2 separate regions of the Homo sapiens genome follow, and region 2 is linked to region 1. The links come from fine-mapping of genetic effects on plasma protein levels. A gene starts in region 1. The other region holds a variant in brackets. All regions are shown on one strand. Distances are between the middles of the regions. Region 1 holds the start of FJX1 (four-jointed box kinase 1). Region 2 overlaps LDLRAD3 (low density lipoprotein receptor class A domain containing 3).

The links. PIP is the posterior inclusion probability: the model's chance that the variant is causal. Protein levels are from the aptamer-based SomaScan assay of Sun 2018.
Region 2: its variant is fine-mapped to the plasma level of the FJX1 protein (Sun 2018, PIP 0.95).

The regions. Positions count from the first base shown.
Region 1 is chr11:35,602,938-35,619,380 of GRCh38, reverse strand. FJX1 (four-jointed box kinase 1) reads right to left here and starts at 921. Exons shown (of 1, transcript NM_014344.4): 1 at 1-921. The coding sequence starts at 744. RefSeq lists silencers at 174-443, 454-713, 734-803, 901-1,062, 884-1,213 and 1 more and an enhancer at 1-601.
Region 2 is chr11:36,150,894-36,167,336 of GRCh38, reverse strand. The region is part of intron 4 of LDLRAD3 (low density lipoprotein receptor class A domain containing 3); the gene reads right to left. Among named protein-coding and RNA genes, the nearest start is that of COMMD9, 130 kb to the left of the region's middle. RefSeq lists an enhancer at 13,811-13,980. The variant G/T (reference allele first, on the strand shown) is at 9,985.

The DNA of each region.
Region 1 (16,443 bases):
GTTGGGCAGCCAGCGTGTCAGGCTCACCACGCTGCCCTCGGTCCAGTGCGCAGCGCGCAGCTCCTCCTGCACCTGCGCCCACTGCGCGCCCCGAGCCTCCACCCGAGCCAGTGCCAGCGGCGGCACGTGGCGCTGGAGGCCCAGCAGGCGCGCCAGATAGTAAGACAGGGCCTCGCCCTGAATCTGCTCCGGGTTGATGCCGTAGCGCACGCAGGCGCGGGTGCCGTCGGCAAAACGGGCCAGTCGGTTGGAGCTGCGCCCGCAACCCCCGCGCTCCAGGGCCACCATCCGGGCGCCGCGAGCCGCCTCCAGCCACGCCGCCGCCTGGGCCTCCGAAAAGCCCGGGGGCACCTGCTCCTCCAGGCCGCGGCTCCAGAAGACGCCCCCGTGCACCGCGGCGCTCTCCTCCGGCCGGGGCTGCCTGGCTGACACGTGCCACCTGGGCTCGCTCCGGGACTGCCGGGGCGGGCCGTCCGCGCCGGCCGCCAGGGTGAGCAGCGCCCGGAAAGTTTTCAGGGAGCCGCCGCGGGCGTCCCACGCCAGGGGCGGGGGCAGAGGGAAGCGAGGCGCGGGCGCGGGGCCGCCGCTCCGGGCCGGGCGCCGTGGGAGTCGGTCTTCGGGCGGCCGGGAGGCGGGCAGCTCGGTCCGCGGCGGCAGGAGCCCTCCCCACAGCGCCAGCAGCGAGCCCAGCGCCAGCAGCCAGAGCCCCGCGGTGGCGGCGGCGCCCCGCATCCTCCTGCCCATGCTCCCGCGGCTGTGCCGGTGCGCCGCCGCCGCTTCAAGCCGAGCCCAGGCACCCGGGTCCCGGCGGCGAGGCGGGCCCGGCAGTTTGTGGGCTCCGGGGCTTCGGGCGCTTCGGCCCCATCGCGGCCGCGGGGCGCTGCGGGGCTCTGTCCGGCGCTCCGCCCGGCGCTGGGAACTCGAGTCCCCGCCGCTTCCCAGCTGCTTTTGTATTTCGCTGTGAGACCCTCCGGTGGGCGCGATTCACAGGCGCCCGGACCACGTGGGAGCCAGGGGGATCCCCCTCCCCCTCCTCCGCCTCCGCTCCCCGCCCCCCGCTCCCCCGCCCCCTTCCTCTCCTCTTCCACTTAAAGCGGCGATGGCTCCTTCCGAGAGGGAGAGGCGGCCCCACACTCGGTCCGGGACTTGGGGGCCTGGAGGAAGCCGGACTGGCTGCGCCCGCGCCGGGGCGTAGGAGGGGGTGGCGCAGAGCCGGAGTCTGGGGCCTGGCGGGAGGGACGCGCCCTGGGCCCTCGCGGGGGTGTCTTGGTCGCCGGGTCCCTTTGCCTAGGCAGCGCGGGTCTCCTGCAAACTTCAGACAGATTTCCACCTCTTTCCGAGCTCCGCCAGGCTAGGATCAGGCAGGGTCCCTTTGCTTTCTCAGTTTCTGTCTGGGTGATTCACGCTGCTTTATGTAAATCTCTGGGAATGTCTCCGAGCCACAGAGGATGTGATTCCAGCGGAAAGAGGAACCCGCTGTAGCCAACAACTTTGAACCGACACTCCCTTTTCCGAGCTCGCACATCAGCACCAATCAGTATTGGCCGCTCTGCCTTTCCCAACGGACTCCCAGGGAATGAAGCCTCGCTGTGCACGTGCCCCTTGAACACCTAGGCCATCTCCCATTCATTCATGCATCCATTCAACACAGCGACTGCCCCTCAGTTCTGGTTCTGCTTACCAGAAGCAAAATCCACAGATCCGGGTCCCAGTGCTGCTGAAATTTACATTCCAGTGGGACTCTCAGGTTGCTAAGAGAGATTATAGCCATCCAACCTCGTGTTGGGGAGAGGGGAGTCAGGGACGACTTTTCGAAAGAAATGATACCGTTTTGTCCATGAGGAAACTGAGGCACAGAGAAGGGATGGGTGTTGCTCAGGATTGCACAATTAGCAAGGGGCGAAGCTAAAAGTCAAACTCAGGTCTCCTGGCCGCATGCACTTGATTTTCCCTCCATTAAGAAAGATCAGTATTTTTTTTTTAATCAAGTCAGCATTCTCAAGTTTGAAATTCACTGTCATTTGACCACTTTGTTCCCCAAATGTGATTTTTCAATTAAAAGGATTTTTCAAATGGAAAGGAAAAAAACCTCAATCCCATACTGCATTTGATTTACTGCTTTTACGATTTAAGGGAAAAAGAAATGGTGGTGGTGGTGGGGGAGGGAGGTGGTGAAGGAGCAAAGAAAACAAAATGAACAACCTCTTCACCCCAACACATCTTCCAGCCACCTCTGGGTTACATTTACCAGGAAAACTTGGATGCCAGTCGGCCCTCCCTTACCTCTCTGTATCAGAATGAGTCCCAGATCCACACTGAGATTCCCAGGGTAGACACAAGATCAGGGGCATGGTGGAATCCACCTCTCAAAGGCCAGAGTTTGAAATCTGTTTCCTTACATGGTGTGTATCTTTTCTCTCCTTTCATCTTCCCATCAGGTGCACATGGGGGTTTTCAACTGGACTACCTCATCAGTTGGCACTGATTATGTTTTATTCTCCAAAGAAAAAACGTTCTAGGGTGATAGAGCGTTCCAGGGTGATAAAGCAGACACTCTTATGTTTATGGCTGAGCAGAGGCATCAAAAAACCACATTTGGAGTATTGCAGCACTGACCCAGGATACAGTCAAGTGTTTTCACTGGTGTGGTTAAGTACATACTGGATGAACTGTTGAATCTGTTCCCAACCACATGGTGGCTATACCATGCCATTTTATAACTCTTATCTGATAATGAGATTACTATGGCTCCCATATGGTTGCATCGAAATATATTAATCCATTCAAAGGTCTTATTTTTTTGGCCTATGTAAGCCCCTCCTCATCTTTCCCTAGCAGGCAGGGACTATGTCTTATTTTTTTATTTCTTATACCACCTAACATAGTATATTACACTAAATAAGCACTCAATAAATTTAATTTTTTTGTCTTTTGGTTTAACTTCTACTGGGATATATATGTATTTATTTGAAAGGCAGCCTCTTTCAGCGTGGGCAAACTATAAGCAAGATCGCCACCTAGTGGGCATAAGTAGAGTATCATCTAATTGGAGAAAAGTAGACATTTTTAACTGGATGATTAATTGTTGAAGTTAAATTCGGAAGACTATTAAATGTCTACTGTGTACCAAGCTATGTCCTAGGGGATATGGAGAAATCCAAAGTAGTTGGGGTCTCTGTCTTTTTGGCTGCTAACAAAAGCTGTAAGTAACTACCATTGTAAACTTCCTGGGGAGTCTGTCTTGTCCATTGTTTTATGGCTGCCTGGGCACAATGCCTGGCACTTAGTGTGTGTTCAACAACAATTTGCTGAATACATCGTTAGAATGCTAATGAGATGCAAGTAGCATGTATCAAGTTTTTTTAAATTAAATACCTTACTACTAAATAATGCAAAACAATTTTGTCCAACGGTTGTGAGTTATTGTTCAGCTGATTAAAGAATACAAAATAAGAACTTCCACTCATTTGAAAAAGAAAAAATATTGGTGAGGGTTTTGCATGATAGATGTGAGGGGAAGCACATGATTTTAATTCTGGGAGGGCTGGCTTCAAATCCAGAGACTAGAAATCCTGGAATCTCCTAACCATATTGCTGGTACTGATGAAAAAAACCCAGACTTAAATAAATTGACTAAGATCGTACACCTCATAAGATGGACTAATTTTATCATTGAGCAGCCCTTTGCCTATAGCCATAGGACTGAATGCATCATGTACCAGAACAGGATGCATTAATTTGTTAAACTTTAACAAATTAATTGAAATGCAGAAATACAGAAAACCAAAGGAACAAACACTGCCCCTTCCTCAAAGTGGAATGCAGTTTTGGAATGGTATTTGATTATTTGAGACAGGGTTTAAAAACATGCCTCTGTTTAGCTGTTAGATGAAAATACTCCCATTCTCCTTTATTTTCTGGACTGAGGACACTCCCCTGCCACCTGTGGCCAAACCACTTTGGCTCTGTGGGGTAGCATAGTTAATCACCTCAGTCACTTCTGCCCTCTGGCAGTTGCTTGGGGATGAGAAATCCATTTGCACTTTTATGACTTTCTTAATACTCCTTAGAATTTATCCCTGAGCCTGAACTTCCAATATCTTCAAACTTTTCCACAGTCCTGTTTGAAGAATGATCTGGTTCATGTAATGGTGCCTCCTGGGGGAAAGAGAGGAGGTGGAGTTGAGGGTTGGAAGCAGGGGAGGAGGCTTGGAATTGGAATATTTTCCAAGTCTGGCATTAGCACTTTCTGGCTTGTTCCTTGTTCTAGTTATTTACTTTCTGTGAGTTTCAGTTTCAGAACCTGAGAAATAAGTTAATAAATCCTTCCTAACTCACAGGGTTGTCATGCAGCTCAAGTGAAATATTAATAATAACCACAGCATCAGTGGCAGCAAACACTTATTGAACTCTTATTATGGGCTCGGTGTGGAGCTAAACCCTGCATGTGCTTTATCTCATGAAACCCCCCCAAAAGTATTATTATACCCACTTTACAGATGGGGAAGTGGAAGCTTAGCCAATCAGTGGAATGAGGTCATGCAGCAAGGAAGTGGCAGGGCTGCGATTCCAAAATGATGGGGACCAAACCTTTTGTAAATTATAAACTGCTAGGGAAATGTCAGGTGCAGAAATTATTACATTAAATCAAAATAGATTCAACTGAGATGAAATTTTGGTTTCATGTGTTCTCTGGGGTTTGTTCCCAAGTGAAATGGTTAAGAGTGTGAACTGTCAAGCCAGATTGTCTCATTAAAACCCAGTCCTGCCACTTACCAGGCATGTGACTTCGGGTAAGTTACTTAACCCCTTTGTGCCTCAGTGTATATATCTGTAAAATGCAATAAGAACAGTATTACTAGTATTACTAACAAAAATTATAACAATATACAATATCTCATGATTACTAGTAATAGGAACAAATCTTATAGATTATTGTGATGATTAAATTAGTGCTTATATTTAAAGTGCTTAAAAGAGCATCTAAGTGTTCACTATAGTATAGCTGTTGTTGTTCTTTTTCCTTTCTATTTCCTTTCTATTTCACTGTTTCAGTGCTCAGATGGGGATGTCTTCCTTCTCTTGTTGCTGTCCTCCACCAAGTCTCACTTGGTCTTGAGAGACCTAATACAAGTGGTGTTCCAGCTCAATGCACCTGCTTTATGCCTGAAATGGTGTCTTTCCTGATAATTTTGCAATATTTCTTCCCCATGGAGCTGGACCACCTGGCTTCTACCAAGGTTCCCAGTGTAACTCTTGTTAAATGCCCAGAGCCTCCAGCCAGCCTCGGGCAGACAGCTTCTGGCTTCCTCTCACTAGTCTGCCTCCTTCAATCCTGACCTTTTCTGGATCTCCTGAGTTATAAGCCCCTGGAAAAGACAGAGGCGTCCAAATGTACCCTTCCACGTGCTTCTACAAAAAGGAAGAGAGGGGACAAAAGATGTCAGAGATGAGTATAATATTCCATGGAAGTGGTATGACTCCTACATTGGCCACTACTCTTTGACCCTGGGGAGTTTTCTAACCCCCTGGGCTATAATTTTATTATGTATGTATCTCTGTTACGGACTGAATGTTTGTGTTCCTCCTTGCACCATAAATTAATATGTTGAGATCATAACTCCCAATATGGTGGCATTAGGAGGTAGGGCCTTTGGGAGGTGATCAAATCATGAGGGTAGAGCCCTCATAAATGAGATTAGTGTCCTTATAAAAGAGACCCCAGTAAGCTCTCCAGCTCTGTTTTCATCATGTGAGGACCCAGAAAGAATACCGCTGCCTATGAGCAAGGAAGAGTAGCCCCACTAGACACCCAGTCTTCTGGCACCTTGATCCTGGACCTCCCAACCTCTCTCTCTCTGTCTCTCTCTCTCTATATGTAGATAGATAGATAGATATCTCTATCTATCTATCTATCTATCTATCTATCTATCTATCTATCATCTATCTATCTATGTATCTATCTATATATTTTTTTTTGAGGCAGAGTCTTGCTCTATCACCCAGGCTGGAGTACAGTGGCACAATCTCGGCTCACTGCAACCTACACTGATTTTCTTGCCTCAGCCAATTTTCTTGCCTCAGCCTCTCGAGTAGCTGGGATTACAGGTGTGTGCCACCACAATTACGTCCGGCTAATTTTTTTTATTTTTAGTTTTATTTTTGGTAGAGATGGGGTTTCTCCATGTTGGCCAGGCAGGTCTCAAACTCCTGGCCTCAAATGATCCCCCCGCCTTGGCCTCTCAGAGTGCTGGGATTACAGGTGTGATCCCCTGCGCCCGCTCAAATGTTTGTTGTTTAAACTACCCCAGCCAATGGCGCTCTGTTATAGTAAGCCTGAACTAAGCCATTCCCTCCTTCCCGTCTTTTCTACCCTAGGGTACATTATGTTTCTGCTTGAGGATCAGTTTCCTTTTCTTGGTATCTCTATTTGACTATGATCTGGGTCTTCCAAAAATTGCTTAACTGATCTCATTCTCACATTCTTGGCTGTCAAGGGTGGGTATATTGATGCCTGGTTCCAGATAAATCCTACTGGAGAGCTAGAAGGAGGTCAGGAAATAGAGTAGTCTTTGAATGCAATGAACCTATCTGCTTGAACAAGTCCCACTTTTAAGAACACATTGTGTTTCTGGAAAGAAAGTCATGGTTGACAAGAACCTTGTAAATTGTGATGAGACACATTTTTACGATTCTCTTTATTCCACCTAGCTCTCTTTTGGACCTGCTTTGCAAAGGTTCCTGCAGACACTAGTGTTAAAGACTCGAATCTAAAGGTTGGAGCACCGGTGAATCAATTTAGTAAATTTTAGAGCAGTCGCCAACACATATTTCAGTCCTGGTTACAGAGTATGATGGTAAGAATTCTGGACTGGGCATTTGGAGACATGAATTTCTCTACTATAATTTAGTTCCACAGACATTTGTTGCCCACATGGTAAAGGCCAAAGGACTGAGGAATAAGTGATTGGGCATCAGATCTTCCTTCACACCTGCATCAGGGAACGTTTGTTGTCTTCTTTTCATCCTCCGCCTTCCCTTCCTCCTTTTTGGCAGGTCTCTACCTTCATCCTCTGTGCCTTTAACCTTTAAGGGATGCTGAATCCTGTTTGGGCTGAACCAGTCATGGTGCTTTCAATTCCTTGCAGTGACTGGTTAAGGCTTAGGCATGTGAGACCATTCTGGCTAGTGAATGTTACGGGGGAAGCCCAGTGGAAGGTTTCTGGAAAAGTTGTCTGTACTCTTACAGAGACACAAGAAAGATATGGCACCTTTTCTGCATGGTTCAGGCTGGATGGGAGGCCTGGAACTGAGGAAGTCATGTTAATGCAAGGGGAACTACGTTCACACAATCAGGAAGGCAGAGTAGAGAGATGGAAGGAACCTGGATCCTTGCTGATGTCACCAAGCCCCCAAGTTAATCAACTCTGGAAATGCCCTTCCTCTAGATTTCCTGTGGTTTAAGCTACTCTGAGTTGGGGTTTCTGTTGTTTGCAGCCCAAATTCTCCTGAATGACATACCCTTTCACATCAGAGCTTACAAACTAAGGAAGGAGGCTGACTTATAAACAAACAGATCTCTTCCATCACAACTGGGCTACTGGGAAAGTAGTGTGGTTTAATGTTTTGGAACATGTGCTCTGCAGCCAGGCTGAGTCTTGCACCTATGAGCTGTACCATCTTGGGAAAATCACTTAGCCTCTCCGGACCACTTAACTCATCTGTAGAATGGAGATGGTAACTGTACCTGCCTCATTATTGTATGGATAAAATGTACCTTAAGCACTTAGAAAGGACTCAATAAATATCAATTGCTGTAGATATTATGGAAATAGAAAGCACACGCAGGAGCATAGAATAGGGAGTGACTGATTCTGCCAGGGAAGTCCAGGAAGGCTTCACCGAGGAGGCAGGTGTTAAGATGAGTCTTGAAGGGGAAGTGGAGATTTACAGGTGGGGTGGGAGATTCAGCCAAGTAGAGGGAACAGTGTGTGAGCTCAACAGCTGTGTGCCCACAGGCAGATTACCACATCTTTCAGGAGCTCAATTTCTTTGTCCTTGAAAGCCCTTGAGTGTGTTGAATTAGCTTAATCCTCTTTTGGCAAAAGAAGTAAATCTCAGGCCCCCGCCCTAGATTGAGAGCCACCTCATTAGAGACCCTCCATGGCCCCTTCATCAATAACCTATGATTGTTGGTCTCAACCCACCCTGAAAAAATTCACTCAACAAACACTCCCACTAAAAGAGGTGACTCTCGTTCTTCTTTGTTGATTTCTATTCTTCGTTGCCACCCAGAGATTTATCCAGTGCACAATTAGTGATTCTGTGCCTCCTCAGCTTTCCAAGGCCCCACATATCTCATCAGTCAGATAGATGCTGAAGCTTAATTAAGCTTGTAAAGCTTTCTGATTTCCTCAGATGAAAGGTAGTTCATAAGTACCAGGTTTTATTTTGGTAGCTCCTGCCAAGGGTTATTATAAATAGGACTTAGTGCGACGTGGCTAAGCTCTTAGGGTGATAATGTGTCAAGACCAATTGAGGCTGCCGAAAGCAGAGATATTATCATAATGGTTCTATCATAGGCGGTGGGTGTTAATGGAAGTAGCTGTGAAAAAAAGAAAGTACTGCAGCCAGCAAAGCCCGGATCGAGATGGTTGCAAGTGAAATATCGGCTGCTCATGGGATCTCCATCATAATCATTAACCATATTAGCCTTGGAGCCATTCTTCTGCCATCTCTCCTAGACCAGGCTCACACTCAAATAAAAAATGGATGCTTTAACTCCAAATGAAAATATATTCCTTTGCTGCTTTTTAAAATCCATTTACATTAAAATGATGGCCAGCAGGTAAGTAATTTGTAACTGGGGGCTTACTGCAGTGCAGAAAAGTGGCTTCGGAATAGTGAGTCACCTAAGTGGGAGACCAGGAGACTTCCAGACCCAGGAAAAGCCATTGCTGCTGGACTGAAAAATGGCTGGCAAGAGTAGGAAAAGGCAAGGGATAACTTACAGACACTCACTGATGGGGAATAGTGAGCGTAGAGGTAGTTTGATATTTCCACAATCAGGTGAGTGAAAAAACAGAAGTTCTTAGGTAATGCAGCCCTGGTTAAGAATGTGTTAGCTTCCAGGGCCCTAGCTTTGGTTGCCGAAAATCAGCTTTTTGCATTCCATAGGCAGACAACATCATTTGATGATGTTGGTGATGGCAGTGATGGTGATGATCATGATGATAATAATGATGTACCCTGTTGTCAGTTGAAGCCACCTGCTTTTTTGAGATCCAATTGGACTTAGCCTAAATTCCTATTTGTATTCCTATTGTATGGTCTCGGTGGCAGGGAGGTTCAAAGACTTTCCCCTGTTCCTGAGAGTCCCTGGAGCTTTGTGCCTCAAACTTCTGTCTGTGTCCACTTCCTGCTTTCACAGTTGTGACTTTGGCTCCAACACACATCAGCATGGGTGTGAAGTTCACTGCCTTAACCACCCCCCCGCCTGCATTTGGACCAAGATATCATGAGTTCATTGACTTTCCTGAAGATCTGGTGGGGCTCGCTGAGGAGAGGTCACTGCACTGCGCAAGGTCTTCATCCATGCAGCTGTCTTCTCTTTCCTTTCTCTCTCCCGCCCGTGTGGGGAAACAGGTGAAACTTTCCTCTTACATCATGTAAAACAGGGCTACTCCCATTCAGGATCCATTCAGGATCTCAGCTTCTAGTTCAGGTCAAGGTTTTTCTAGGGATCAAATTGGGGGGTCCCTGAAGGGATTTCTGGTAGACACAATTTAACATTTTCAGCATACTTTCTACACGTCAGGCAGTGTGCTGAGAGTTTTCCAAGCACTTAATCTTTAAGATCCTCCCACAACACCGCAAGATCTTATTTTCCCATTTCATTCATGGGAAAAAGGAGCATCATTAGAGTAAGCCTCAGACCAGAAGACTTCTGCTATTGGGTAAAAGAGGAACCCCAACTCTTGTCTGCCAAAAGACCAAGGTTATGTTAACTACAATGCCACTTGGCTTCCTGGGGCTGAGAAACACTGGTGAATTAGCAAAGGGGACTCTTACAGGGGAATTGCCTCTCTCCTTAGTACCTGCACGTCGTCTTTCTCAAGGCTGTTTGATATAGGTACTACCTGCATCCTCATCTCTGCTGAATGATTAAGCCCAAGCCCATTTACTGGGAGGTACGTTGCAGTACAGAAAGCTCCACAGGATTAATACCTTATTGAGTGGGATGTGATTGATCCAGAAAGAGGAGGGTTGGCCTGGCAATCCTGGAAATGGCACTGTCTCTGTCTGGGGAGCAGATCAGCCTGGACAAGAATGGCAATGCAAGAACACCTGCTGTCATTTCTCCTCTGGTTTTGCCCCTCCCATGAGCAAACTCTGAGATTGCCCCAGGGAAGATGCCTCTGTGGGGCTGGGTGTGTTTGTTTCACACCACACATTGAGACTTGATGCTGAATGTCTCCTTCCCTTTCATTTCACCTGAAGAATAAAAGAAGAAAGAAACTTTAAAGGCCACTTCTTGCTGCTTGAGTTTAAAAAATGGCTACATTTTACAATCTCGGCCTGAGGAATAGCAGGACAAAAGCTGAGGAATAACAATGGTTATTATCTAGCTCCTTGCAGTTTGGCCGAGCAGTTTCACAGGCTGATCTCATTGGGTTTTCAAAACAACCTGCTAGGGAGGGGTAGTAAGGCAGGGGTTAGTTACTGTTCCTACTGATGAAGAAGAAAGCTGAGCTTCAGAGAGTTGCGTGATGAGCCCTAGGTTCTCAGCTAGTTCCTGACACACCAAGAACATGAATGCACTTTACCTGAGTTTCACCTCAGAGGTTTTACAGGACACTCCGTCTTTGCCCAGTGTGACTCACATCTGCAGATTCTATCTCTATCTCATGTTTTCCACATAGTTACAGGTGCATGTTACCTGTATGTTACAATGGCTGCTAAAACTCCAATAATGAGGACAGAAAAAAGAAACCAAGGATTGCTAAAAAGCTAGAATATTTAGACACTCCTTTCCCATTCCATGGTGCTTTCTCTCTCTTTTTTGAGACAGAGTCTTGCTCCATCACCCAGGCTGGAGTGCAGTGGTGTGATCTCGGCTCACTGCAACCTCCATTTCCCTGGTTTAAGTGATTGTCATGCCTCAGCTTCCCAAGTAGCTGGGACTACAAGCATGTGCCACCACACCCTGCTAATGTTTGTATTTTTTTTTTTGGTAGAAACAGGGTTTCACCGTGTTGGTCAGGCTGGTCTTGAACTCCTGGCCTCAAGTGACCTGCCTGCGTTGGACTCTTCTATCTCTGTTACTAGCACTTATGAAAGAAAGGAAGTGGGGAAGGAAAATGAGCAAGAAAAGTTAGGGAAAAGAGAGAGAGATTATTTTTAAATACTTTTCTCTGCTTACCTGTTTCAATAAGCAGAAGAGCTAACCAAAGAAGTCAGAGAAAGAAAGTGCAGGTAATCACTGATTATTGACTTATTTGCTGAGTGAAATTTTTTTGGGGGAAAAAGATTATACAACAACTCTGAGATAGTTAACAGGAAATGGTAACAAGCAAAAAGCTTCCTCCTGTTTTTCTGCTCCTGTGCATGATACCCCCTCTCACTCAGGGCAAAATCAAGTCAGCAGATCAAAGCATGATGTTAAACTTTGTCTTCATCTCTCCCCATTGGGAGGGCCATTTAGTTAGGGGTGACAACAGGTCTGCATGGCTTTTTAGGATAAGTGAGAGTAGCTGGACTATAGAAGTCTTCCCACCTTGGTTTTCTCATTTGTAAAAATAGGATATTAATGCTTGCCTTGCGGAAGTATTACAAGAATTCAATGAGATTATGGGATTAGAGCAAGTGAAAAGTTATAATGCAGTTTCTGGCATATAGTAGGCACTCAATAAATATTAAAAATCACACATGAAGCTGCACAGAATGTCTTGGAGGACACACACTAACCTGTTAATGGCATTACTCCCAAGAAGATGTTTGTGTGTGGGGGGCACTTTCACTTTTATACTGCATACGTTTTTACTTTATAACTCATTGTGGGAATGATATGTAAGTATTAATGGATGTGTGGATGCTCACGTTAAGAGTTATGATCAGATAGAGAGTACTAATGTGACATTTTTGTACATCTGTCTGTGTGATTGTGAAATCTGTTTTTTGTGGCTTTCTTTTGAGACAGGGTCTCGCTCTGTCACCCAGGCTGGAGTGCAGTGGAGCAATCATAGCTCACTGCAGCCTCGAACTCCTGGGCTCAAGGGATCCTCCAGCCTCAGCCTCTCAAGTAGCTGGGAGTACAGGCACATGCCACCATGCCCAGCTAAGTTTTTAATTTTTTTGTAGAGACGTGGTCTCAATTTGTTGCCCAGGCTGGTCTTGAACTCCTGGGCTCAAGCGATCTTCCCACCTTGGCCTCTCACTCCTGGGATTACAGGCATGAGCCACTGTGCCCAGGTTGATTGCAAAATTTATACTCACTACTAGTAACAGCATCAATAGAAGCATCAATGGCACCAGCAAACACCAGAATTGGCGGCCCTGGGTATGTAAACAGGAGCGCCTTTGATCAAGGGTTGTGGGTATAAGATGTCTCAGCTACAGGCACCTTCCATTCAAGCTTTAATATTCCAGGAAGGAGGAATCTGATTAGTCTATTTTAGGACCAGGTTTCCAGCATCGGCTCATCCAGACTTTAGTATGTAAGGGAACAGTTCTGTGCTGGACTGTGATTCTGCACATGTCCATCCCAACAATTTTGTGTTGTTTGATTTTTTTAAAAAGTTATAATCTTGCATTTCTTTGAAAATAATAACGTGAAACCTCTAACAATGGATAAAGCAAGTAGAGCTATACTGTAAGATCTCGACAAAATGTGTTTTATGCATCCTTTTACAAGGAACCAGCAGGATTCATCATTCATGTGCTTGGTGATACATCGCAGTGACACGTCTGCCCTGGGTCTGAATAAATGTTGATTATGATGGCAAACACACCCACACAACAATAACAACACTTGTCTTCTTGACTCCAATGGTTACCAGATCCAGAATTTCCATAAATTTGTTTTAGTGCTGCCCCTCCGGTTAGAAAGGGAATTTGAGACCTTTATTAGGGTAAAGAAAAGTAATAGAGGATCTTTTGATTTTTCTATCACTAGCTGTCATTTTACAGCTGTCATTTGGGAGGCAGAGAATATGAAGCATACAGAAGGCACACAAAGTATAATCTGTACGTGTGCATATGTGTGTGCATGTGCGTGTGTGTGTGAAAGACAGAGAGAGAGACAAACATGTCATTGCCCTGGGGCAGACTGATTTAGGGCTTTTCTAAGGCGAGCTCAAATCCAGACTGCATTTTCTATGTGGACCATCCGTGTTTCCCAGCAAAGAGGCACCCAGCCAAGGCCCAAGAGGTTGAGGATAAAGTGAGAAGCAGAGAGCTTAGCCAGTTTAGGGGGGGAGGAGGAATGTTCTGTGTTCTCTGTAATGCTTCCTGGCAACATCTGCGCCACAGAGGACTTGCTCAGCTAGCTCCCCTCCGGTCAGCCTGTAAGAGTCCTTTCTAGTGGCAATAAATCCTGCCCTCTGCCGCCCACCCATTCCTTGTGATTTGTTTTTTTTTTCTTTGGAAGTGGAGTTGGGCAGTTGCTGGGGAAGAGATCAGAAATTACTTATTGGAAGGCAGAAGTCACATCTCTAACAACCAGGGATAGACTAATAACGGATACCAGTTACCGAGTCTTGCTACATGCCAGGCAGCTCACATAGCCTCACAAACCCTTTCAGGTGGGTTTTATAAGCCCCATTTACAGATGAGCAAACCAAGCTTCAGAGACTTGTAAATTGCTTAAGATGATAGGACTCTTAAATGCTAAGGCCAGATTCAAACCTGGGCCAGTGTGTCTTCAGGTCACCCGGTCCTGACCACCCATCTGTATTGGAAAGCTAGCTTGAAAGGACCCAAGACTGGCAGCTTTGGTACCCATCCCTGGCTGCTCTGGGACAGGTCACAGAACTGTTGAGTAGTCATAGTCTTGACTACAACAGATTGGAAATTATGATATAATATTTGCTCCCAGAACCAGCATGGTATTAACATCATTTTAAGCCAAGCCTTTGAGTCAGCTCTTTTGTGTATGGTTTGGGAGAACAAAGCACCAGGAACTCTCAGGAGTTCATGCCCAGCCATGGACCCTCTGAGGAGTACTCTTTCTGAGACACCATGGAAAGCTTTTTTTTCGCATTTGCAGCTTCAGATGCTGGTGTTCTACCCTCTAAAGTTGCTGAAACAGGACCATTAGGCGGGATAGTTTTATTGGAATTTAAAATATTGTGAATTTTGTGCTAACTGCCTCTGGCTATAACTGGAGTAAAAGTGACATTGTGTCAGACAATAGCATGCACTAATTAAGTCAGTGGAGAATGTAACAACAGAAATATCACAGCAACAAAATTAGAGTTGTATTCCAATTGTGTTCAGAGTGCTCCCCCAGAAGGGCAGTTGAGTTTAAACTTCCATTATTTTGAGTGAATGTGGCCCTAAGGAATCATGTAGGGATGGTTTTTTATGTGATCTCAGGGCAGTCCCTCTCTTGTACTATAGTAACTTTTATAAAGCTATAGTGTGCTTTGTTGAAAAAGAAAAGTAAAAAATATATTTATTCCTTGAAAAAAGTCTGAGAGGATACATATCTAACTGTTGACATACCTTACCTTGGGAAAAGGAAATTTGAAGAGAAAGGACTTTCTTCTTTTTCTTTTTCAAAAAATTTCTTATATTCCTGGACATCTATCTAAATTCATTATACTCAGCATATATTTTTGAGCAGACTGAAATGATCAAGGGAATGCTCTTAAATGAATAATTCATGCTTTATGGCATCAGATGGTCAAAAGGCAGATAGATAGGTGACTGTTAAGAAGTTGCCCCAATGGAGCTGGAATTAAGGTAGCAAGGGTGTGGGCTTGGGTGGCAGCAGTGGAGATGGAAAGGAAGGGAGGGGAGTTGAGTGCCATTAAAAACCAGGGGCCAGGGGTATCACCTGCATTTGTTTAAGGCTTGCAAAGTGGCACTGTTTGCATGAGGATGGAGCCTAGATACTGGTGCCGACCTATGGAGGGATCTAAAGGAGCTAGAATTCTAATTATCAGTGAATGGGTGGGTCGGTGGTGGATGGATGGACAAATGAATGAGTTCCTTCATTTAAGCGTCCTTTCTTTTTTTTTTTTAAGACGGAGTCTCACTCTGTCGCCGAGGCTGGAGTGCAGTGGCGCCATCTCGGCTCACTGCAGGCTCCGCCTCCCGAGTTCACGCGATTCTCCTACCTCAGCCTTCCCAGTAGCTGGGACTATAGGCGCCCGCGACCACGCCCGGCTATTTTTTTTTGTATTTTTTAAGTAGAGACGGGGTTTCGCCGTGTTAGCCAGGACGGTCTCGATCTCCTGACCTCGTGATCCGCCCGTCTTGGCCTCCCAAAGTGCTGGGATTACAGGCGTGAGCCACCGCGCCTGGCCTTAAGCATCCTTTCTTTTAGGTTCAGGCTGAACTCCTTTAGAAGTCTAATTAGGTCCTCGGTTAGGGCAGTATTTCTCATATTATTCCCTTGACCTGGGGTGTTCTTATCCCAGCCTTAGGGAATTAAGGCCTTTCTAAGGTCTGGGCCATTTCTGGATGCCTCATTGGGTCACTTAAGTCTTGTTTTTTTTTTTTTTTTTAAACTATAAGAATCTCACTTCCAGATTGGTTAAACAATATAGGAGATAGATTTAAGGTACAAGTACCTAGAAGGTCTTCTGGGTTGGGTTGATTTAAGGGCTCACCAATGTCATCCAGCGCTAGTTTCTTTCAAGCTTCCTGTTATGCTTTTCATACAGCAGCAGCCTGGCTTCCTCATGGTGGCAAAATGGATGCAGCAGTTCCAGCCTTTACTTACACATTATCTAGAAGGAGATAGAGAAATATTTTTTGCCCCTAGAAGTTCCTTGAAAAAGCTCAGGTCCGTTCTCACCCATTCAAATTGCGTCTCATGCTGATACTTGACTGAATCCCTTTGACTGGAGAATGTTGATTGGCTTAGGTTATCTGAGCAAAGCATACTTATGGGGGCAGTGGTGGTGGGATCACCATATCTCACCCATATGGCAGATACACAATGCGGGTGTGTGTGGAGGGGATATTAGGTAGCTGTCAGGCTCTAGTTTAGGATAATAAAGCAGGCATGACTGGTGTTTGTAGGTGTATGGGGGAGTGGATAAAGTTGAAGTAGGAAATTATCCAAGAGGGGTAGAAGATTTCCCAAACAGAAGCAAGACAGTGAGTGGGCTCTAGGCTGGGGGCTGTAGAGGAGAATAATCATGAGAGTGCCTGAGAAAACTGGGCATGTAAAACCAAAGTCCTGAAGTGCTAGACAAGGGGCCTCCAGGATTT
Region 2 (16,443 bases), 550 kb before region 1:
AAGATATTTCTTCAGATGAGATTAACATCTCTGAGTTCAAGCAAATAGTGTGGGCGGGCCTCATCCAATCAGTTGAAGGCTTTCAGAGAAAAGACTGAGGTTCCCGGGAAAAGAAGGAATTCTGCTTCCAGACTCCCTTCTGACTCAAGACTGCAACATCTACTCTTCTCTTGGTCTCCAGCTTGCTGACCTGCCCTGCAGATTTTGGACTAGCTAGCCCCGAACAACTGCATGAACCAATTCCTTAAAATAAATTAATATCATTCTATCTACATCCTATTCTATTAATTCCATTTTCCTGAAGAATGTTGACCATAAAACCATCTTAACTTGATTACATCTGCAAAAACTATATCCAAATAAGGTCACATACACAGGTGCTGGGTGGTTATGAATTTATGGAGAACATTATTCAACCCAGTACAGATATGGTAGACTAGAGCCTCGCTATTCAAATGGTGCTTGGATCAGCAGCAGCGGCATCTCCTGGGAATTTGACAGACATGCATTCTCTCTGGCCCCATCCTGGACCTACTGAATCAGAATCTTCATTTTAACAGATCCCCAGATGATTTGTGTGTACATTACAATTTGAGAAGTACTGGGCTAGAAGATCATGTTTCCAACCATTTACAGTATTTATAATAAAAGGCTTGAAGTCTAGACATTGTAAAAGTCAGATAGCTCTAAAGTAAAGGGTCAAAGAGGAAGAATTAAGAAACAAAGTAGAAATAACAGGGAAATTTGAAATAAGTCATCTCTCTTATTAATCAATATACACCTTACCAATAGTGGAAAATAAATAAATATTTGTCAAACAAATGGACAAAAGAATACATGAATGAAATGGGCTCTTTGTAACAGAGGTTTTCTAACAAACTGGCTTCTATTTACAAGGAAAGCCTTTAGGCAAAAGAGAAAAATTTCATTTCCACCCTCCAGAGTCCAGGTCACCTTTCCCCCTTCCATGTCTCACTGAGAGGCACTGCCATGCCGATGTGATTACCTGGTGACAGTGTCTCACTTGAATACTCATGTCTTGCTCTAGGCTCCCACTGTAACTCATGTTGACATGGAGCAATGTTTCATTTCCAGATCCATATGTATGAATTTTTAATGAACTGTGTCAAAGAAATCAAATATTTCCCCCTGCATTCCCACTCTATGGAATCAGATTTTGACCTTCTGCCAAACAACTATAAATCATGTTCAGCGGAAAGAGCAGGAACCAGGGGCTACTGCACATAGATTAGCCAGTCAATTTCCCTCTGTCAGCCCTTCACCTAAGCTGTCTAGGATGGGAGAGGAGGGAGGAGAGGAGAGGATGGAATAGAGGAAGGAAGGAAGGAAGGAAGGAAGGGAGGGAGGGAGGGAGGGAGGGAGGGAGGGAGGAAGCAAGCCAGTCAGCCTAGAAAAGAAATATAAACAGTAGGCACTCAACGGTTACTAAAATATTTAAGCCATAAAAATGAGATCACTTATTTTTTGAAACCTGGGTGATCATCTTGTTAACTAGAATCTTTGGATCATTAATTCCCTGCTTCTGTAATTTGGTCTTATATTTCTTCATGTAAGATGACTTAAAACTGGGGGGTGGGAGGGGGAGGTGAGAAGTTTGAAAAAGTAGAATGAAAATAAATAATTTCCTTTTTCAAGAGCACTTTCCTAGAATTTCCAATGAACTATGCAAAACACAGCAGGACCTTCCTAAATAAAGGCTCAATCAACACTTAGAAGGGAGCTGCAATTAGATACCATTTCTTGCCTAGCAGTGCAAGAATGATTTTTTAAAATGATAATATCCTATGTTGGCAATTACGTGATGAAAAAAAGGTTCTATCAAATTGCTTGTGGGGGTGTAAACAGATATCCATTTGGATAACAAGTTAGTAATATAAGTGTAATGGGCCCTAAAGGTGTTCATACCTCATATAAATCTTACGGTAATCTATCCTAAGGAAGTAATTCAAAAGACGAAAGCAAAAAAAAAAAGGTTTAAAGCCATCACAACTTCGTCTACAACAATGTATTGACAAAATCTAAATGTTCATCAATAGATGTGTGGCTAAGTAAAATAAGATGCACCCATTTAATAGAATATCATACAACCATTAAGAATGCTTACTAAGAGTTTATAACAACATGGGAAAATATTTATTAATATAAGTGGGAAAAAAAGTAGGATGTAAAACTGAATAAAAAGTATCACGGTTGCAAGAACAAAAAGCCTCCATTGCCTAGGCATGGAAAAGGATATGGGAGGAAATACGCCAACTGCTAATAGTGATTATTTATGGAAGCAGGAAATGTGGGTAAAATTTTCCCTGTTCTATATTTTCCAAACATCCTGTAATGAGTATATGTACTTTTATAATGGGAACATAAGATTTTATTGTGCTTTTGAAAAGCAAGTCAGTTGTATAAGTAAAATTCTAAAAGATATCTCTTTCAACAAACAATAGCAACTGGGTCATGGCTAATTCAAGGTGAAGCACATTTGTAAATATCAAATTTTCTAATCTAACATCCAGATCTGGGACATAGAAGAATCTGGCGGGCTGCCTGCTCGCAAAGCTTCTATCTCTGTCCAAAACACTGCACTTAAGAAGTTAAAGGAAGAGTCAGAGCTGTCAGCTTTAAGCCAGTAGATTCTAGGATGATTCAAATAGCTGTCATAGACACTCCATTTGCTAAAGCTCACTCACTGGAAGGGGATCTGCCACACAGGGCTGAAGAACAGACACACGGATGGACAGACATGGATTATATCGGACCCTGCTGCTTGCCAGCAATCATCCCCACTCACAGCATTTTCCTTTCTTGGCAAGTTTGTACACTTAAAAGCTACCAACTCTCGCTTTTTTACCCTGTTCAAGCAAAAAATTTTGAAGCAAGCCATCTGTGCCTGGAAATGAGCAGCAATCTAAGACCATATGCAAGTGCAGGGGCAGGGGCACAATTCCATTTGAGTGATGAGTTTATTGATAAATGTTCTAAGTGGCTGACTCTTGTTCAATTTTAAATAAAGCAACACTTGGGTATTTTAAATAGGTGAAACAGCATCAGCAGCAGGCAGCTTGTGATGAGCAAACCCAACGCCCATGTGCTTCACATAAGACATCTTAACAATTTTCATCACCATGGAAGCTTGTATGAGATGCACAGGGACAGAGCGTGGCTGAGATTCCCAGGGCTCAACCATGATATCAGCTCCTGTGTGACCTAGAGGATCACCCAGGGCAGTGGTAAGAGGCTGGAAAATGGCTCCTTCTAGAAAGATGTCTTAATTCAGTTCTGTCACCGATTTCCTCTCTTCCCACTGGAAGCTCTAGGTCTCTATTTTCTTAATCCAGTCAGGCAGGACATAGATCAAAGCAGTGAAAACTGAAGCCACTCAGCACTAGGGACAAAGATGAAAACGGGAGCAAAATTGAGGTGGCTCATTCAGTGCTCTAAACCAGTGAACTTCCACCATTTGAGACACTATTCCCCCAATATATGTATATTTCCATTATATACATGATCCCGTCAATCTATATATCAAATCTAAAGCTTTTCTTTCTTCCTGCCCTTCTTCCCCTCCCCTTTTCCCTTTCTCTCTCCCTTTTCCCTCCCTCCCTCCCTCCCTTCCTTCCCTAAACAATCACCTTGCACACATCCCTCTTTGGAAGACTGTTCTAAACACTCAAGTGGGTTATCAAATGGGTGCAGGAGTGAAGGGGTGGGAAAGGCAGTGCATTTCCTACCTTTACAGTCTTGCAGAGGGAAACCATCCTGAAAAGGATTTCCACATATGGTTGGTAGGTATCTTACATCACCATTCTCCGAAATCTATTTACCTACACTGGGCACTTGACTATACCCAGTCACACATCATATGCAGGGAAGTAAGGCTAGGCTTCATTAATGTGGATCCCATAAGCTAATTCAAACCAGGCTGGGCTAAGCCACACCTCGGTGCTGTGTATTAAGAAGAATGGGTCTGCTGAATAATCAGAGTGGAGAAAGTGGCAGCAGTCAGGGGGATGTTTAATTGCTGGAAGGGAATAGACTCTTTTCAGGCTCCATTTATAGCCAAGCAATCCATCTACCAATTACAGGCAAGTTCTTATCCAGACATTAAAGCAGGCAACTGCCTGTGTTGGAAATCAACCAAAACTGCTTATCTTCAGCCTTCCATAATTCCAGACCTTTTGCTGATCCGCCCTGGCTTCTCGCCTAATGCGTTTGCATTGCTTTTTCTGCTCCCACTTTTAGCCCCTAGAGTTTACCCTGATATCAAACACCCATGAAGACACACAGGCAAGGCAGTGAGCAGATCTTTGTTTTAACTGCTTGGGGAAGGAAGAAGCTGTTTGGTCTCTTGGGTCTGTATTTGGCCTGCTGAACATCACAGCTGCTGAGCCCTTGTGGATAGGATCCAGATATAACGACAACCCTGTTTCCCCCTTTGCATTTGAAATATTCCAGAAAGGGAGACTGTCATGAGAAGGGGATGGGGGAAGCTGCAAAGTTAGCCAATGCATTTTAAAAATGGAGACTCCATACCAAATTGGGCATTTCCATTGCAAATCAAGCATTCACTGGGCCCACCATTAGCCAAGCTCAGGATCCTGGCTAATTAAGTCAGTCTCCAGTGGGAAGCTATAGACTTAGGGACCACGGCTTAGCTCCAGTCTGAGAAGCTCACGGCTAAGGCTCTGCTTCATTCTTCATGCAATGTCTAGCAAATCAAAGCTAATGTGAGGAGCACAGCCACAGCTGACTGGGCCTCCCCTCAGTCATGTGCACTCAAAGCCCAGGGCACCACTGATTCACATGTCATTTCCCTGCATTAACATTCTGTCTGGGTTCTAGCTTCACACTCAACAAGTCTATTGCAAGCTATAAATCAGGAGACGAAGGACAGGGTGGTGTGCCAAGACATGTTCTCAGACATGGTGCACAGTGACAGAAACCATCTTAATAATGCGATCTTTAGAGACTCAAGGAAGATCGGACATGCTGTCATTTCTCCCTTGATGAGGAATCCTGCCAGGGAGAAGTGACTGATATCCCAATTCTTCAAAAATGCATCTTTCTAAAAATGTAGATGAAACTTACAAAAATAGCTTTGATGCTCCTCCAACTCAACTTTTTCCCCAGCACCCTGCCCCCACCGTGGCTTAAAAATACCACGCCAGGAATTTATATTTGGTTCAAAGTTGCTTAGCACATCGAGGCTAAATACAGCTTATACACCAATTTTGCTTCCAAAATTACTTACTTGTAAATGTATAAAACCGTTAACGGAATGATTTATAGTTTTACTTCAGTTCTTTCATTACTGATTTGCAGAGATCTCTCTAGGGGTGATTATTTTTGGATATTTCTAAGTCTGCGGACTGCACAACTCTCGATAGATGTTAACTCATTCTCAGAGAGCCTCATCGTAACTGAATTATGCATCTCATTCATTTAAACATTTAATGAACACCCATGAAGCATTAAGTACAGCAGGGCACACAAAGCTGACTAAGGCAAGGGCTTGTGTCCTCAAGAACTTACACTTGTTCTCAGTCATCTTGTAAGCTGGGAGATGTGTTGATACAGTGGCTAAATTTAGTGGCAAAATAAAACTTCCCTGGTCTGAAGCCCAGGTTGTATATGTCTACCAATGTATCTTACCGCTCTTCTGTAAGAGGAATTTGCCGGGACTGAAGTGGAGTTGGCCTCTGAAGATTGTTGTACTCCATCCATCCATCCATCCATCCATCCATCCCAAAATGAATCAACAGAATGTAGACTCCACAAGGGTAGGGATTTTTATCTGTTTCCCCCACATTTATAAACACATCTACAGATATGTATTTAGAAATATATCTACAGGTATGTATTTATAAATACATCATATATTTATATGATGGCCTGTCTGCTATTTGTAAAAGTTTGTATCTCACCCTGCTAGCAGGAAGCAGTTGCCAGAGCCTGATTTCTACTTGGAACAAAATCACTCTGAAGTTCCATTTCCTCATTTAGAAAATGGGGATAGTATTATAGATGCCATAGGATTCCTGGGAGGAATCAAAGGGGTAATATAAGAAATGTACTTTACACACAGTGCCTGGTACCCTAAAGCTCTTGACTAATGTGGAGTATCTTCCCCTCTCTGCTACAGGAAAGGGAAATCAGAAAGAATGGGAAGCCCTCACTGTGCACAGAAGGAGAGACGGGCATTCTGAGAGCTTCAAGATCCTGCTTCTGGCCAGGCGCGGTGGCTCACGCCTGTAATCCCAGCACTTTGGGAGGCTGAGGTGGGCAGATCACCTGAGGTCAGGCGTTCAAGACCAGCCTGGCCAACATGGTGAAACCCTATTTCTACTGAAAATACAGAAATTAGCTGGGTGTGGTTGCAGGTGCCTGTAATCCCAACTACTCGGGAGGGTGAGGCAGGAGAATCACTTGAACCTGGGAGGCGGAGGTTGCAGTGAGCCCAGATTGCGCCATTGCACTCCAGCCTGGGCAACAAGAGCGAAACTCTGTCCCTCCCCACGCCAAAAAAAAGATCCTGTTTCCATTTCGAGTTCTCACTAAGTCATTGTGTGACTTTGAGCTGGTCACTAACGCATTTTCAGTCCCGATTTCTTCTATGTGAAAATACTTTTTAAAACTGAAAACCAATATGAAAGGGTAAACGATACCTATGAAAAGAACCAGACAGCATTATTTTATTCAAAGATCCTCTCTGACAAGCAGAGTTCCTGGGTTGAACGATGGGCCAAAAATTTTTTAAGGGAAAAAACTGACCCCTGAGAGCCTCATTAAAAGAAAGATAAACTCCCAGGAACCATATTTTATTTTTTGCTGCAAGGCTAAATATGGGTTAAGAGGAAAAAATAACTGCTGGGATAAGCATTCATGTATCTTATAATTAAATATTTCAAGGAGGATTTGGTGCAACAGGGGTCGCTAAGCTGCCATTCACTCCCACGGGCCTTATCTCCTCTGGCTGGGAAATCACGCTGGCTTTCTGTGAGCGTGATTTTCCCCCAGGATTCACTGGGCCACGTCCCTCGAGGCTGGCCCACACAAAGGGCAGAGGGGACTGAGAACAAAGATGCGGTGCCTGCAATACGTCCCACAAAACAGCAAGCTGGAATTTTATCACGTTCACTTCACCAGGACGTTCATTCACCACACAGATTCAGGTTTATTCTTTGCATCTCAGGCAAGAACAGGGAAGGGAGATGCTTTTCTTTCTGTCAGACTGTGGCTTATCTGCCTCGCTCACAGCCAGTAAGGCCACGGATTTATAAATTTTCCTGCAACGGTCTTATCAACCACTAGCAATGTGCAGCAACGTGGGACTGAGTGTTTTCAAGGGGGTCCCAACAAAAGCCCTGCGGCTCTGTGTTGCTGATGAGTTGCCGGAGGACTCACTACTGGGCAGGGAACATAAGACTCAGGCTTGGGATGGAAGGAGAGGAAGGAACCGTCCTGGCCCTCCAGGGTAGGGGTGGTTATTCTGTGGGCAAAGGTCATAGGCCTTTGCCACCTTGATTCTTGTCCCCTGAGTTCTCCTTTTTTTTTGAGGGCCTCGCTCTGTTGCCAGGCTGGAGTGCAGTGGCATGATCTGGGCTTACTGCAGCCTCAACCTCCCAAGCTCAAGCAATCCTCCCACCTCAGCTTCCCATGTAGCTGGGACTACAGGAGCATGTCACCACATCTGGCTTTTTTTTTTTTTTTTTTTTTTTTAGTTTCTGTAAAGACGGTGTTTTACTATGTTGACCAGGCTGGTCTTGAACTCCTGGCCTCAAGTGATCCTTCTGCCTTGGCTTCCCCTGGGATTACAGCAGTGAGCCACCGCATCTGGCTCCTTTTTCTTTTTAGAGACAGGGTCTGACTCTGTTGCTCAGGCTGGAGTCCAGTGGCGTGCTCACGGCTCACCGCAGAATCAACCTCCCGAGCTCAGGTGATCCTCCCACCTCGGCTTCTCCAGTAGCTGGGACTACAGGCAAACACCACCATACCCAGCAAGTTTTTTAAAATTTTTATATAGATGGGGGTCTCACTATGTTGCCCAGGCTGGTCTCAAATTCCTGGGCTCAAGCGATGCTTCGGCCTTCGTGTCCTAAGTGCTGGGATTACAGCCATGAACGACCACACCCGGCCAAGTTCTTTTTCAATGGAATTGTCAACATGTATCACTGTCACTATCTCCTTATCTCACTGTTCTTCTTCTTCCTCATTTCTATTCAAATCTGAGTAACAGTTCAGCCCTTCCTTTAATTTCCACAATTTAAGAAAGCAGCCAACACGTACAAAATTACAATTAGAAAAACTGGTGTTCTCTTGCACAGTAGGGCAGCTATAGTTAATAATAATGTATTGTATATTTCAAAATAGCTAGACCTTTCTGAATGTAGTCACCAAAAGAAATGACACACATATAAGGTGATGGATGTGCCAATTACCCTGATTTGATCATTACACAACGTATACATGGATTACAACACATTGTACCCTGTAAATATGTACAATTATTACGTATCAATTAAAAAAAATAAAAGACAGTTGTAGTAAGAAGAGGCTATCATTTTAACAGCATTAATTCATTCATTTATTCATTCCACAAAGTCTTCAGTGAGCATCTGTCACACCACAGGCACTGCTCCAGCTGATGGGATATGATGATATACAGAACAGAAATTCCTGCCCTCACAGAATTTACATGGTAGTGGGCAGAGACAGAGAGTAGATATAATAAAAAGTTATAGGGTATATTGTTTGGGAGAAGATAATAAATGCTGTGGCAAAAAAAAAAAAAAAAAAGCCCAGAACATGGTAAGTGGAACGAAGAGGGAGCGGGGTTGGTGATGGGTTGCAATTTTAAACAGGGGGTGGGGATGGGGATGGGGTTCTCCTTGAGAGGGTGGCACCTGATAAAGAGCTGAAGGTGGACCCTTGGGTATATGGAAGACAGGTGTTCTAAGTGAACAGAACAGCAAGTGCAAAGATCCTGGGGTGAGAGAGTCTTTGGTGCATTTGAGGAAGAGCAAGGGGGCTTTTTCCTTAAAATTCAATGAAACTCAAAGGGAATTACCCCCGGACAGTGACGTGCCTGGAACTCTCACAGCTGAGGCAGCTCTCATAACTCATGTGCTGAGGCTATCTTCATAGACTATCCCACTGGAATGTTTTTTCAACATCAGGTCTCAACCAAATAGTATAATAAGTACAGAAACTAACATAGTGGGTCAGGGCCAGCATAAAACGAAAAGAAGGGAATAGAATGTATTAAAAAATACCTGCGTCAGTGTGCTGAATGTAGAATGACTTCCTATCTGTATATTTGTGATATAAAAGTAGTTCTTATTGTAGGTTGGGGTCCAAATTGCTTAACAGCTACTAACCAACAGGTTACCTTCTACTGAGTCCCCAACTTGCCTCCTTGTAGCAGTGCCTTCTGCTCCCAGAACCTGGAAGCATCTACCCGTGACAGATCTAGATTCCTTATAATCTAAGCTCAAAAAGAGGCTCAGAGAGAAAAAGATGTTTCCTCAACCACCAGACCTTGCCTGTCTCAGCAACAACTGAAATGGAGACACTCCGCTCCCTCCAAAAGACAGACACCCTGCTTCCCACCCAGGGGCTATATCTTCCTGTGATGGTCCCAATGGCTCCTACTCCACTAGAATTTTAAGACACTCAAAACAGAGACCCGCAAAATAGTAGGGGCTCCCTTCCCTTATCATGACCCCCAATCCACAGAGTGGAGTTTAACTCATGGGCAGTTTGCTGGAAAATAACTCCCTGGCCTAACCAATGTTCATCTGTTCTCTGGGCCAAGAACCCCATGGTTCATTTGGGACTTTAAAAACTGACTAAATAAAAAGAAATTTTAAAAATCAACAAAAGTGCAACAGAACCACTCACAAGCTGCAATGTGGGAAACTCTTCAATTAACTCCCTCTCAAGTTTTTCTCTTCTGACAAGACCAAGTTT[G/T]TCTGGCATCCCCCAGAGGTCTCCCTTTATCTGGACAACTCATTTTGAGTTTTTGGACTACATCCTGCACTAAGCAGGAAATTATTAATGTTCCCGTTTAAAGGCATGAGGGGGCAGAGATCCTCTATGATGGTTTCGGGGGTGCAGGAAACTGTATACAATCTGGAGACCCCATCAGCCCCTTACAGCATTACTGGGAGCATTCTGAATGGGGTCCTCTCTTTCCAGCAGGAGACCAAAAGATTGCCCTTAATAGAATTGTTTAAATTGCCTAAAATTGCTGCTTCTATTCCAGGCTGAAAATTACAGCCCTTACGCTGTTTCCCATCCTCTCCCCAGGGTTACTCAGTGCCCCAGAGGAGATCTGTACTAACAACATCATCAACAAAACCTGAATGTACTTTGTGTGGAGAAAAATATTTGCAGCTTTTCAACCAGATCCGAAAAGGCAGTGACTGACATACACACGTTCTCCCAAATGAATTCAGATTTTCCTTTTTTTTTGGCATGACAAAACAAATTACCAGCTTGATTTATGTTGCCTTCTGAAATGTTACAAATCAAATGCTAAAAATCTCTGAAACCATATCATGCTGAAGATGATGAATGCTGATCTTCCTTCTTTGTCATTTTCTGCCAGCTGGGTGGGTGCCATGAGGAGGGGAGGGGATGATGAAGAAGTTATTGTTGCCAAATAATGCCACATCAGGGTGTGAGTGTTGAGACAGTCATTTCCTTACCTTAACTCCCCTCTAAGAGAAGGCTGTGTGTGGGTAAACAAACAAAACCCAATCTGTGTATATTTCAAGGACGTAGATCTTCTGAAAACTGCTGTTTACTGCAGTGAGACAGCACTGCCTTGGGAGACCCAACTTCTTTCAGCTCATGCTAACAATGGCAAATGGGTGGACCTGATCCAAGTGGCCCTGTACTGCCCCATCCATGTTCTGCCAAGGCACCTGGCCCTACCCAGGGTCCTGCTGGGCAGAGCTGGCTATACGAACAAACTTGGGCTTTGAGTTTGCAGTGACAATGTGTATGTGCAAACAGCTCTTCAGTTGGGGATCGTGCCACTCCAAAGGAATCACAAGCTGCTTTGGATTCAATCTTGAAGCCTCAACCAAGACTGCCAACTACTGGCGGTCTTTTTTATCCCTTCAGGTGCTTAGCTGTTGATGAGGTTATACAATTTCCACTCAGTACGTTCTTCTCAACGAAAGCAAAGGACTTCTGACACATCGCAAGGCTCTACCTCGAATCAGCAGAGTCAATCTCTTGTATGGAGTCTCTAAAAACTGCTCCCTGGGTGATTCTAATGTGCAACTAGGATTGAGAACCACTAAAGAAATGGTGAGGCAGAACATGACTCATCTAAGAACATAATTTCCCAGCTCAAAGCTCTTTCCTCCACAGAGCCCTGCAGGTGGCCACATGCTACTATTGCTGGCTCAGCTTCTTAAAGGCAGGGGGAAGGCAGGCCCAGGACTTTTAAGGACCAAGACTAGGCTCCAACAGAGGATTTTCTAGATAGGCGCATCCCACTCTAGTTTCCATTGAAAAAAATCTTGCTACGCACCTACTATGAGCCAGGCGGGTACCCCTGGGAATAACAGGGGTGAACAAGAGGCCCCTGCTGTATCCTAAAGTGATGGATAACTATGTTCTTGAACTAGGCTAAGTGCTTTGCATTCTCTCATTGTCTCATTTAATCCTTACCACTAGTCTGTGAAGTACGTATTATTATCCTTATTTTACAGAGGAAGAAACTAAGGCTCAGAAACATTAAGCCACTTGCTCAAGGTCACACAGCTGGGAAATAACACAAGTCTGACTTGTTCCAGGCACGGAGGCCAGCGTGGGGAGAAAACAGGGAGCAAAGATGAGCTGGGGAACAGACGCGGAAGTCAATATAACTATGACTTCAGCGGGCTCTCTCCAAACAAAGTTTTAGATGAAATTCTTTAAACAAGAAGGAAGAAAATAATTTGGAATTTCTGGCAACATTTTGAGGCAGAGCTTCAAAGGACCCGGATAAATAATGAATGTCACTGAAAGGCCACAGAGCAGAGGGGCAGAATCACATGCTCGCCATGCCAAGAGCTGCTGAAGAAAGAAAATACTTGACAGCGTGATCTGTGGGTTGTTAACAGCATCTGAAAATCTTTCTAGGTCAGCAGATTTCCTAGACAGCTGTGATCCACTCTGGGGAGACTGTCAGCCATTGATTAATTCCTAATCAATGAGAAAGCAAATGATGGCAAATGAACCAGCCTGAACTGGAAAGATTGTGGGTCTGGGGTAAAAGGCCATCCTCTTCCCAGCAGAATTCAAAGTAAGGGCAAGGGTGAGAGGGTGGAAAACAGGGAAATGGGGAAGAGGAGGAGCTGCCCAAGGAAAGAGGACAGGAAGGGAGAGAGAGAAGCAGACAGACAGATGGACTGGGCCTAAAGACAGCATGAGCTCCTGGGAGAGGGACTTGTGGTAGAGGCCAGGGGAGACTGCCTGGGGTCACCTGGTGGTTGGTTTGTCCATGATGGAAAATTTTGTCTCAAATGAGGCTGTCATTAGGATGCACATGGATGTCCCTCTGACATAAGTTCCAAGAAAATTAACCAATAGGAACTGAATGATAAGACATGAAACAGATTCCTAATTAAGTTACCTGACTCCAGACTGACTGCAGCTGCAGGTTCTGAAATGGGTTTGCATGGGAGGCTACAGGCAGTATGGAATGGGGGAAAATAACGGGGTTTTTGGTCAATTAAGTTCAGGAAACACAGGTTAGACAACAACAAACAATTTCTTTTCCCTACGACTTCTCTAAACCTCTGTTGTGATTTCTAAGATTGGGAAAGTGCCTCCCAAATTCATGTGACCACAGGCGGAGCTGCTTGTGGATTTAGGGTTCTAAGGAACATGCTTTAGGAAAGCTACTTGGGTACAAAGGGAATAAGTGGGGTCCAAGAGCCCCTAGGCTGTGCCACCTGGGGTCTAGTCATCTCTTGGACACTAACAGTGGGTCACCATTTACCTGTCCTGGCTCACCCGCAGGCTGGGTACATCAGTGGTGGTAGTATCATGGGCACATTCTTCAAATTTAAGTCCCCCAGATGTTTAAAGGTGTGACTTACTTTCAGTCGGTGTGGCATTCTCTGAGCTCAAAATTGGGACTCTTTAAGAATGCCAGAATGCGAGAGAACATTCTGGATGAACTCATCTCTTTACAAAAAGAAGAACAGAGGCCGAGGAAGTCAAGCAGTTTATGCCAAAGTCTCTGGGACAACTCAGTGGTTGAGACACAACTGGAACCCGAGGCTTCTGGCCTTCAGTCTGGGATGAAGGTGCCTCTCCAACTCCCCCACACCCCACTGAAGGCACAATTCCAACCAATGTTTAAAAACTTAGAAGAACAGTATCCTTGAACTGTTGGAGAGGTGGTAAATTCTACTTTCCCATGGCCCGCCTACCTCTTGTTAGTCTATCGATGACACTTGCACATGATTTATCCTGTTAAAAAAAAACATTAACAAGCAAAGCAAGCTAGAGAAACCCCCTAATGGCAGGAATTTAAACATTTGCCCACCACTAGAGCAAATAAATATGCACATAGCTGCATTCCTCCCTTCTCCTTTGTTCAAGAAGCAGAAAAAAATAAGGCCAAAAGAGAGCACTTGGGAAATGGGTCACTGGGATTGCAAAAAGGGATGTTCCACTTAGCCATTCAAAATGTGTCTTGCTAATTAAGAACATGTACTTGGTAACAGGGTCTACCTTTATGACAAATTTACAGACAGATCCAGAAATAGATCAACCAAGGTAATCCAGAGACAAGCCTCAATGTCCTAAGAGAGGGAGGGGTGCCAACTGACCCAGCAAAAGGTCTGGGAAAGCAGAGATACCCCCAACTGTGTTCAATTAAAAGTTCTCTCCCACAGCAACCAGAGCCAGCCAGTGCTCAGACAGAAACTTATATGGAATTTACTCATCTTGCTTGACAATAATCTCCGGTCCCTCCTGGGCTCAAGTGCTTTCTGCAGCAATGTTAGGTGGCATTTATTCACTCCTGAAGTATACATTCAACAAATATTTGCTGCAGGAGGACCTGTTCTGAGAAGTGGGGATACCACATCTACAACTCAGAGTTCCTATGCCCATGGAGCACATCCTGGTCAAGCACCCCGACTATGCTGGGCATCTCTCGGCGTCCTCCAAGAACCCGAAGCCATTAAGTGTTACTAACCCCTTTGTTGGAGATCCTGAGGCTCAGAGTGAGAAAATAACTTGCCACAAATCCATGGTAAATGGCAGATTCAGGAGTGGAACCCAGGTGAGCAGGACCTCAGAGTATTCATCCACAAACCTTAATCATCCCTGCCTCAATTAAGAAAGGAGACTGCTTGATTGTACCCTTGACTGAAAGCTTCCTCTCCCTCTTTGTTGGAGGTCCCCAAGAGCACCCCAATTGTGAAGATTTGCTAAGAGGACTCACAGGACTCAGCATATACTTGTACTCACAGGCACAATGTATTAGAGCAAAAGGTTACAGAGCAAAAATAGCATGGAAAAAGGTGCATGGAGTAAAGTCTGGGGGAAACCAGGTGCAAGCTGTCAAGCGTCCCAACTATTTATCCTAAAACAGACCTGCTATTTCAACTTTTTTCTGCACACCTTTCTGTTAGAAAAGCTGATCTGTGCAAATGGCCAAAGGGAGTTGGAAGCAGACAAAGCCAGAAGTATAGATGAAACCCTCCCTGAAAGAAGAATGGATGAATTTGTAAAACAGACTATATGGAGGATTTTTTTGGTGGGAGTGAATAGGGACACGGGTAGGGGCTGGGTGATTTCATTATGAAAGAGGTTTGGAAAGGGGAAAGCACTGGCACCAGCATCAGAGGACCTAAGGCTCTGTTTGACTTAAGGTCAATTCCTATCGCTAACGAGCTGTGTGACTGTGGCCAAGTCACTTAACCTCTCTGGTTTTCTCATCTGTAAAATGAGACGAAAGCTGAATTAGATAAACCTCTAATGGTCTTTCTGTCTCTGATAGCATCTGGTTTTATAACTGACTAGAGATTTTCTTTAAAATGGAAAGATTCCCTGGTGAATTTAGAAAATGACTCAATTCCACACAGCTTTCAGGAGCACGTGTATCACAAAGTGAGACTCATCTATGGATTCTTTAGCTAAAGGAAAAGGAAAGTGTGTGTTGGAGGGAAAGAGAGCATTTCTCAGCCAAGTGGCCAATTTGCGGTTTCAGTTCCCTTAGGAGGCGTTTGGAAATTCAGCATTCCTTGGTTCTACCAGTTTTTACCTCACTCAGGAAAAGGGAGTTGGATGGGCTGGTTTGGGAAGCTGGTGGTGGTCACAGAAGTCACTGCAGACACTTTGGGGTAATTTTCTCCAAGTCATCCAGCTAAAGTGTTGGGGTCAAGTCTATGAAGCTCTCTGGTAGCCCCAGCTCATGATCTAGCATTTCCTTGTAGTGGTACTAAGAGACAAGACAATAGTACTCAGTGGGCTGGGAGGAACTGTTTATTTTCCTTCCTTTTATTCTATTGATTGATTGTAAAGTCTAGCCTGCTTGGTAGAATTCATGCTAGCGCCAGGGTCTCTACTACAGACACTGATGTGTAACTGGCACTAGACAGGACTGGGGATTTTGACCAATATACATTTATCAAGCTCAATGGAGGAGGTGGAAGACTAAAAACAATTCAAAGTGGGATCCCGCCCTCACGGAACTTAGCATCTATTAAGGAGGGAGCGGAGTGCCATGGAAAGACCATGGGCTTTGGAAAGAGACCTGAGTTGACTACAGCCCAGCCCAATTGTTTACTAGCTATGTGGCCCTGGGCAAGAAACTTAACATTTGTAGCCTTAGTTTCCTTCTTCGTAAAATGGCGGTAACAGAGTCCAACTGTTAGGGCTGAGATTATCTATATGAAGGTCTTGGCACAGTGGCCAGCAGTGCCTCTCTTCTGTATTCGATGTAAATGGCACCCCCTGAAGTTTTGCGATGTGCACCCCTGGCCCATCTTACTACACAATACTGTGTATTGTGTAGTAAGTGCTCAATACACAGTAGCTGCTATTATGACTGTCTCTAATGTTACCATGTGGGTACATCAGAGCTGGGATAGAATTCAGGTCATTCCCAGATATGAGCATGATTCACTGAAACAGCACCATGTGAATTACAATTTGAACAACTGGAAACCTCTGGCCTGGCTAGACTGGTGAGGGCGTTCTAGACAGACAGAAAAGTGTGCCTGAAAGGTGGGAAACCAAGGATTGTTCAGAGGTGCCTATGGGTGCATGTGGTGAACAGATCAGACCTCGGAGAACTTTCCATGTCCAGTAAGAGATTCAGCTTTATGCTACTGGCAATGAGGGGCTATTGTGTGTTTGAACACAGACAGCAAGACAAGCAGGACTGGGCTTTCAGTGACAAGGACTGGA